3 separate regions of the Homo sapiens genome follow, and all the other regions are linked to region 1. The links come from fine-mapping of genetic effects on gene expression. A gene starts in region 1. Each other region holds a variant in brackets. All regions are shown on one strand. Distances are from middle to middle.

Region 1 (2,750 bases):
TAGGAGCTTATGGGGAGGCATTGGAAAAGGAGAGGCTGAGAACCCCGAACTAGTCCCTACCTTCAGGCCTGCACCCTACTTTTAGGCCTCAACACCCTCCCTACTCAGACCTTGCCAGTAGCCGGCTCCCATCCCCAGCCCTGACCTTAGCTCCTCCTCCCAGGGAATGCAGGTGTCTACTCTGGCAGGCCCTACTTTAGACATTTTGTAAAGACTTTTCTTGTTTCTTCCAGCAAGTCTGCTTCTTGCGGGAATATTTAGCCCTTCTCTGAGGCTTCCTGTCCCCGGCTCACATTCCTCAAAAACCCTGTGTGCTCCTGCTCAGAACTCAGCACCTTCTGGGAAGCCAGTGTCATCCAGGACCTCTGCATTTCCCCACCCCTTAGGCCCCAACCCTAACGCAAAGCTTCAAAGTCCAGGCCTCCATGCAGCCCTCCAACTCTGGCCCCCAGAGTTCCAGCCTCCCAAGTTCCCTGAGGCCCCTGGTCCCCCAGGCCCTCGGATCTCTGCCCTTTATACCCTCAGCCCCCAGTCTCTAAGGCCAAGACCCCACTAGCTCTCCCACCGGGCCTGGTGCCTGTCCTTCCCCTGCCCCCAGCCGTGCCCCCGGCCCTCACCCACGCGGAAGCCGGAGCCCGTGAGCGTGTCTGTGCTGTGGCCGTTCTCTCCGATGAGCGTCATGTTGGAGCCCTGCTGACAACTGTCCCGACACTGGCCCTTGAGACAGGTCCGCTTGCAGATCACCGGCGCAAAGACCACCTTGAAGCGCTCGCGGGCCAGCGCCCCGCCCCCGCCTGCGCCCCGCTCGCCGGCCGGCCCCCCCTCGACCCTGCCGCCCAGGCCCAGCAGCAGCAGCAGCAGCAGCAGCAGCAGCGCCAGCAGCCCCGCCGCCCCCGCCCCGCGCATCTCAGGGGCCAGGCCGCCAGCAGCCCCTCGGGGCCCGGGCATCCGGGGCCGCAGGACCCGGGGGAGGGGGGGCGCGCCCGGGCGGGGCGAGGGGCCCGCGCCCGAAGGGAGTAGAGGGCCGGGAGCCCCGGGAGAGGGTAGGGGGCAGCGAGGGAGGGCAGCGGGGGAAGCGGGCGGGAGGGGACCGCGGGGGCCCGGCGGGAGGCGCGGAGATGCAGACTGGACAGCGGGGAGCGCAGAAACTTCCCAGCCCCAGGACGAAGCCCAGACCAGGCCCCGAACTCAGGCAGGAGCGAGGAGGCCGGAGCAAGTTGAGGCGGAGAGGAGGAGCGAGGGAGAGGAAGGCCGGGCGGCCGGCCCGCTCCGCGCCTCCCCCTGGCCGGGCTCCTCTCCCGCGGCCGCGGGGAGGCAGGGAGCGCGCGGGGAGGGCTCAGGGAGAAGTGAGCAGTTGTTTTCCCTGGCTGGAGCGCGGCGCGGCGGCGGCGAGGGGGGCTGGGACGCTGGCCCCGGGCCAGGGACACAGTTTTTTTTTTTTTGTTGTTTAAAGCGTCGCCTCTGCCGCCTGGAGAAGCGAGGGTGTGCAGGCTGGCGGAGGCTGGGGGGTGGCGCGGGGACAGTCCCCACCCCAGATGCCCGCCCCCGCCGGAACCCGCGGCCGCGCTGGGCCCTTTCCAGAGGGCCCTCACCTGGGACCGTCTGGCCGGCCGCGGATTCCTCCGGGCGGGGCGGGGCGGGGAGGCCTGCGTAGAGCGAGATACCGAGGCTGAGGGAGAGAGGTGGCCCTGCCGGGTCACACTGACGATGGAGGCCGGGTGGAGCCGGAGCCCAGGCCTTCCAGCTCTTTCCCAGCCTCCCTTGCAAACGTGGGGGTCTCAGGGCCCCAAAGTAACTTCTCGTTAGTGCTGGTCCAATCCCCTCTGAGGAAAGGGCTAAAGGGTGGGGACAGCCTTTGGCCAGGGCTCACGGAGGTCCCAGGAGGAAGTCTGTGGGGTCCAGAAGAGGAGCAGAAAGAACAAAGCTAGAACCCAGCTTCCCTGCCAGCCCCCTCGGAATGGCTTCCTGGTGCCCACCCTGCCACCTCCCCCCTTTCCTTTCGTCTGGCCGTGCTGGCGGGGCTGGCTCTGGGCCTCAGACACTCTGGAATCGCCAAGGTCTGAGCTCAGGGCCTGGCCCCCTTCCCAGGCTAACAGCCGGGAGGACGGGGGCGCTGTCCGAGGGCCCAGGGGCTGGAGAGGGGCACAGCAGAGCCCCAGGGCAGGGGCTGGCAGCGGCTGGGGGTGGGGGTCTTCAGGTTGGCCATGGCTGGAGAGGAGCATAGTTCCAGACCAGGCTTGTCCGCTGGTCTGGAAGGAAAGGCTGCAACGTGCGGGGGCCCAGGCCTTACTGTGGGGCCTGCCAGGAGACCCCAGGGTTCCGTCTCTGACTCACAGAACTCAGCAGGAGGTGGGGACGGCTAGGGCACATCCAGGAAAAGCGCTGCCAAGTCAGGGCGGCACCAGACCCTCTCCCGGACAGCACCCGGGGCAGCAGTCTAATTGGGGAGAGGAGGTTCAGGGACTCACTTTCAGGCACACCTGTCCAAGGAACTCTGTTTTTACTTTGAGCGTAAGTTGATGTGGGTAGCTTTAGGGGGACGCTTAGTAAGTCCCCCTTACTAAGCGGTGCAGGGCTGGGAGGGACAATCACATGTCCCCAGGGATCCCTGCTGCCGGAATCCAGGATGGGGTGTGAGGGGCAAGCCCCTGCTTCTTGGGGCCCTGGTCCACACGGAGGCAGGGAATAATGCTAGGTGCCGACCACCTGCCAGGCACAGGGCTGAGCATTGTATACTCATTTTTTCCTAA
Region 2 (2,750 bases), 37 kb after region 1:
GAGAGCTAAGGAGGCTGGCAGCCCCAGGGCTGCATAGACCATGCAGAAGGCCTTTCCGCCTGGCGATAGTGGGGCCATGTGGCCATAACCTGGAGAAGAGAGAGTCAGTGGACAGTGAGAGCTCTGAGTGCCATGTCTGCTGGGGTCCCTGCCTACCCCAATACTGCCTTCCGCAGAAGGCTGCCCTCTGGTGGCCTTGAACTGGCCAGGCCCAGGTTCTAGCTGGCTCTGCTCCTCTTCGTCAGGGGATCCCTTACCCTCTCTAGGCCATTCTTTTCTTTTTTGGAAAATGAAAGGATGAAAGAAGACAGTTCCTCAGGCCTTTTGTAGCTGGGACAATTCTGAGAACTGCGCTGCCCTTAACAGATACTCCCGATTCCACAGCTGGTGGAATATCATCCACTCTTTCCCCAAATGTGTGTCATGTCCTGTGTGCCAGGCTTTGTACTGGGATCTGAATCAGCCCAGGCCCTGCCCCTTCTGGTGGGGGAGTCGGGCAGGCAAATCATGAAGGGCTGCAAAGAGGCAGCATGGGCGAGAGAGGGCATGTGCCAGGCGGGGAGGGGTGGGAGTGCGGGGTGTGCTGGGAGAACAGGATCAGCTAATACAGAGCTGCAAACGCACATGCCTACCGGAGCCAGATGGGAGACAAACAGGAGTGGTGGGGACAGGGGTACACTGGAAAGTGTGAGCTGTATCCAAAGGGCAGGCCCCATTCTGCTCCAGTCAGGATGTTGCCTTGCAGGGATTCTGGCTCAGTGTGAGTGGGTTTCCTGATTTTCCAAAAGAAGTTGGAAATATGAGCTGGGCACAGTGGCTCACACCTGTAATCCCAACACTTTGGGAGGCTGAGGCAGGTGGATCACTTGAGGTCAGGAGTTTGAGAACAGCCTGGCCAACATGGCAAAACCCCGTCTCTACTAAAAACACAAAAATTAGCCGGGCATGGTGGTGCATGCCTGTAGTCCCAGCTACTCAGGAGGCTGAGGCAGGAGAATTGCTAGAACCCGGGAGGTGGAGGTTGCAGTGAGCCAAGATCGCACCACCGCACCCCAGCCTGGGTGACAGGGTCAGACACCGTTTCAAAAAAAAAAAAAGTTGGAAATACAAATTCCAATTCAAAAAATACTGAGACACTTTGTGGGGCAAAAAATACGAAAACCCA[G/A]GGCTGTGGGTCTCATTGCTGCTTTTCCCTGGGCCTGTGCCCACGCGATTTCTCTGCAGGACTCCCTCATCCCTGTCTGTGCCCTCCTGATCCACAAGCATCTCATGCCGACTTCCTCCCCTATCTTCCCTCACTCCCCCACCCGAGGCCATGGTCCTGATCTGTCCTTCCCAGGTTCATTCTATTTGCTTCCATCCAAGAATCCATCCCACTGTATTGTATCCCCTATCTGGCCACAGGCTGTGGCATCTGGGCAGCTCTCCTGGGTCTCAAAGGGTGCCTGGGGTGGGACTGGGGAGGCCACACCCTTCCTGGCAGTTGAAGTGGAGGCACCAGTTGGGGTGTGTTGGTGGGGAGCCCCAGCTGTGATGTCAGGCCTCACAGGGCCTGGGCTCCATCTGGCTCTTTGGGGCTGAAGGAAGGGCTGCATGAACCCCAAAGCCCCCAGGGAGCCATGGCCTCTTGGAGCCGCACCCCCCGACTTGGCTGCCTGGCTCTCTTACCTGTGGTGGTGAGGATGCTGGCAGCGAAGAGCAGGGCTGAGGGAAGGTCCCAGGTCCTGCCCTCTGAGCTGTTGCCCAGGGTGGAGACCCCATGGGCCTGGGTGGCCAGGGCAGTGCCCAGCAGCTCTTCCAGAGCTCCGGGTGGCAGGCAGGCCCTATGCTCTGCCTGGAAGGCTGCCAGCTCTGCCCTGAGCTCAGCCTGAAGCCTGCATGCAGGAGGCCCCTCCAGGGCCTGGAACACCACAGCCCCAAGCCCCAGGGCCAGCAAGTGGGCCACAACCAGGAGCCCGTATCGGGACCAGGGCCTTAGACCCCCCATGGCAGGCCGCTGGGGTGCTGTGGGAACTGGCGGCTCCACCTCAGGCACCTGGGAGGGGCTGGGCAGGGCGGGGCCAGGAGGAGGTGCTGTGTGGGTGGCTGGGACCCGGCTGGGATGGCTGGGGTGGCTGGGGTGTGAACAGGAGGGAGGTGAGCTGCATCACCCTTCCCAGGTCCTGGAGGCAAGACATTTGCCCATTTCACAGCAGCTGGGATGGTGGGGATGGGTGGAGGAAGGCGGCTGCGGTGAGGGGAGGAGGCGGAGGAAGCTGAAGCCTAGAGAGGACCTCACACTTATTCAAGGTCCTGCTCACTCAGGCACCCATACCACATTCATTCATTCATTCATTCATTCAAGTGCTTAGGGAAGAGGACAGGCACAGGTCCTTTCCTTCCTGGTGTTTACACAAGAAACCTCTTAGCAAAGAAACATGGCAACCTCACATTGTCATGAGTTCCATGAAGGAAACACCCTGGGTGATGGGAGAGCTCTGCGGGGAGCGGGGGGGTTATCTCACTGGGAAAGCTCTGCTAAGGAGGTGATATTTCAGCTGGGGAGTAAGAGGCCAGTGAAGGTAGGAATGAGCTTGGGGTGTGAGAGGAACAGAGGGCTGGCTGTGGCAGGGGAGAGTTGGGGGTGAAGGGGGGATAAGGACACAGGCCCTTGAGGATAAATGTGGTCCAGGGAGACCTACGCTGGGCTACTGTAGGCGTCATGGATGGAGTGATTTTGGCCTGGGTGGTGTGGTGGGAGAGGAATGGTG
Region 3 (2,750 bases), 25 kb before region 1:
CCTGCAACCCCAGGGCAGCTGGGAGCATCAGACAAGATGGATGGGATCTAGGAAGTACCAGTGGCTCCCAGTGCCATTCCCTCTGTGACCACCAAACACACCAGTCCTCCTCGTGGCACTGTGGGCAGGTGGGGAGGAGCAGGGAAGGGGTGATACCCTCATTTATAGAAGAGGCTCAGGCTGGGCGCAGTGGCTCATGCCTGTAATCCCAGCACTTTGGGAGGGCCGAGGCAGGCAGATCACCTGAGGTCAGGAGTTTAAGACCAGCCTGGCCAACTTGGCGAAACCCCGTCTCTACTAAAAATACAAAAATTAGCCAGGTGCGGTGGTGGGTGCCTGTAATCCCAGCTGCTCAGGAGGCTGAGGCAGGAGAATTGCTTGAACCTGGGAGGCAGAGGTTTCAGTGAGCTGAGATTGCGCCACTGCACTCCAGCCTCGGTGACAGAGCAAGACTCTGTCTCAGAAAAAAAAAAAAAAAAAAAATAGAAGAGGCTCTGAGAGGGTGGCCAGATGAGCCGGACTATGAGCCAGGCCTTCCTAGCGCCCTCCTGGCCTTTCCTCACTCCTCCACCTGGGCCTGAGGCCAAACACCTGGGTGGTGGCTCAGGAGGTTGACCTGGCTGGCCAGTGCCTGCTGGGTGGAAAAGCTAAGCCAGGAGCGGTTCCATGGCTATGGGGATAGAGTGGGAAGGGCTGACCATGTTGACGCATCCCAACCTGGGCCACAGATGGAGCAGTTCATCCAGTACCTTGACGAGCCAACAGTCAACACCCAGATCTTCCCCCACGTCGTACATGGCTTCCTGGACACCAACCCTGCCATCCGGGAGCAGACGGTCAAGGTGGGTGTGGCCAGGCCCAGAGTGGCTACCCCTGGTTTTCCAAGGCTTGGAGGGGCTCACCCTAGACACAGAGGCCTTGGCTTTGGCCCATGGGTCCAAGCAGACACTGTCCTTGCTGTGTGGGTTCAGGCCGTGGGTGCAGCTCGGCAGCTGGCGGGGGAGCACGTCCTCCATTCAGCAGACAACGAGCATCTGCCTGTTCCTGGCCCAAGCCCCATGCTGGGAGGCAGCATGCATGAGGTGCCCAGCCCCCTGCACTCATGGAGCTTCCTTTCCAGGGCACAGAGGGTGGGCTTGCCAGACAATACAACAGAATTAGAAAATATGTATTGTTGGCTGGTC[A/G]CGGTGGCTCACGCCCATAATCCCTGCACTTTGGGAGGCTGAGGCAAGCGGATCACCTGAGGTCAGGAGTTCGAGACCAGCCTGACCAACATGGCGAAGCCCTGTCTCTACTAAAAAGTACAAAACCATCTGGGGATGGTGGCGCATGCCTGTAATCCCAGCTACTCGGGAGGCTGAGGCAGGAGACTCAATTGAACCTGGGAGGCAGAGGTTGCAGTGAGCCGAGATCATGCCGTTGCACTCCAGCATGGGCAACAAGAGGGAAACTCTGTTTCAAAAAAAGAAAGAAAATATGCATTGTTGGAAAGTGTGGGGAGAAGAGTTTGTGGTTTTAAAAACAGTGGTCAGGGGCTGGGCGCAGTGGCTTACGCCTGTGATCCCAGCACTTTGGTAGGCCGAGGTGGGAGGATCGCTTGAGCCCAGGAGTTGGAGACCAGCCTGGTCATCATGGCCAAACCCCATCTCTACAAAAAAATACAAAAGTTAGGCGCGTATGGTGATGCACGCCTATAGTCCCAGCTACTCGGGAGGCTGAGGCAGGTAGGTAGCTTGAGCCCAGGAGGTTGAGGCTGCATTGAGCTGTGATCGTGACACTGCATTCCAGCCTGGGCAACAGAGTGAGACCTCATCTCAAAATTTAAGAAATTATTTTAGGCCGGGCCTGGTGGCCCATGCCTGTAATCCCAGCACTTTGGGAGGCCGAGGCGGGTGGATCACCTGAGGCGATGGGAGTTTGAGACCAGCCTGGCCAACATGGTAAAACATGGTAAAACCCCATCTCTACTAAAAATACAAAAAATGGCTGGGCCCGGTTGCTCACACCTGTAATCCCAGACTTTGGGAGGCTGAGGTGGGCGGATCACAAGGGCAGGAGATCAAGACCATCCTGGCTAACATGGTGAAACCCCGTCTCTACTAAAAGTACAAAAACAATCTAGCCGGGCATGGTGGTGGGCGCCTGTGGTCCCAGCTACTTGGGAGGCTGAGGCAGGAGAATGGTGTGAACCTCGGAGATGGAGCTTGCAGTGAGCCGATATCGCGCCACTGCACTCCAGCCTGGGCAACAGAGCAAGACTCCGTCTCAAAAAAATAAAATAAAATAAAAATTAAAAAAATTAGCCAGGCATGGTGGTGGGCGCCTGTAATCCTAGCCACTCAGGAGGCTGAGGCAGGAGAATTGCTTGAACCCAGGAGGCAGAGGTTGCAGTGAGTAGAGATCACACCACTGCACTCCAGCCTGGGTGACAGAGTGAGACTCTATCTCAGAAACAAAAAAGATACGGAGACGAGAGTGGCTCTGAGGCTTGTGGCCTGAGCAACTGGAAGGTTAGGAGTTGCTATTTACTGAGATGACACAAGCATGTTGGGCCCCATCTTGGCTGTTTCTGTTAGGCAGCTGGATGGAGATGTCGAGTTGGCCACTGGTTATGCATGTGTGAAATTTAGGGAAGTCTGGGCTAGGGGTATGTGCCTGGGGGTTGTCAGCTCACAAGATGGCATTGAAAGCCATGAAATGGCTGAGATCACCTAGGGCAAGAGTGTTAGATAGAAAAGAGCCCTCTAGAT

Evidence for each region. PIP is the estimated chance that this variant, and not a neighbour inherited with it, causes the effect.
Region 2: its variant is fine-mapped to the expression of LTBP3 in whole blood (TOPMed, PIP above 0.99).
Region 3: its variant is fine-mapped to the expression of LTBP3 in whole blood (TOPMed, PIP 0.98).

What each region holds. Positions count from the first base shown.
Region 1 is chr11:65,557,012-65,559,761 of GRCh38, forward strand. It overlaps LTBP3 (latent transforming growth factor beta binding protein 3), which reads right to left and starts at 1,348. Exons shown (of 28, transcript NM_001130144.3): 1 at 618-1,348. The coding sequence starts at 948. RefSeq lists silencers at 1,177-1,416, 1,467-1,626.
Region 2 is chr11:65,593,786-65,596,535 of GRCh38, forward strand. It overlaps KCNK7 (potassium two pore domain channel subfamily K member 7), which reads right to left and starts at 2,015. Exons shown (of 3, transcript NM_033347.2): 1 at 1,669-2,015; 2 at 1-89. The coding sequence starts at 1,987. The variant G/A (reference allele first, on the strand shown) is at 1,166.
Region 3 is chr11:65,531,964-65,534,713 of GRCh38, forward strand. SCYL1 (SCY1 like pseudokinase 1) reads left to right here. Exons shown (of 18, transcript NM_020680.4): 9 at 729-842. Among named protein-coding and RNA genes, the nearest start is that of SCYL1, 8.3 kb to the left of the region's middle. The variant A/G (reference allele first, on the strand shown) is at 1,185.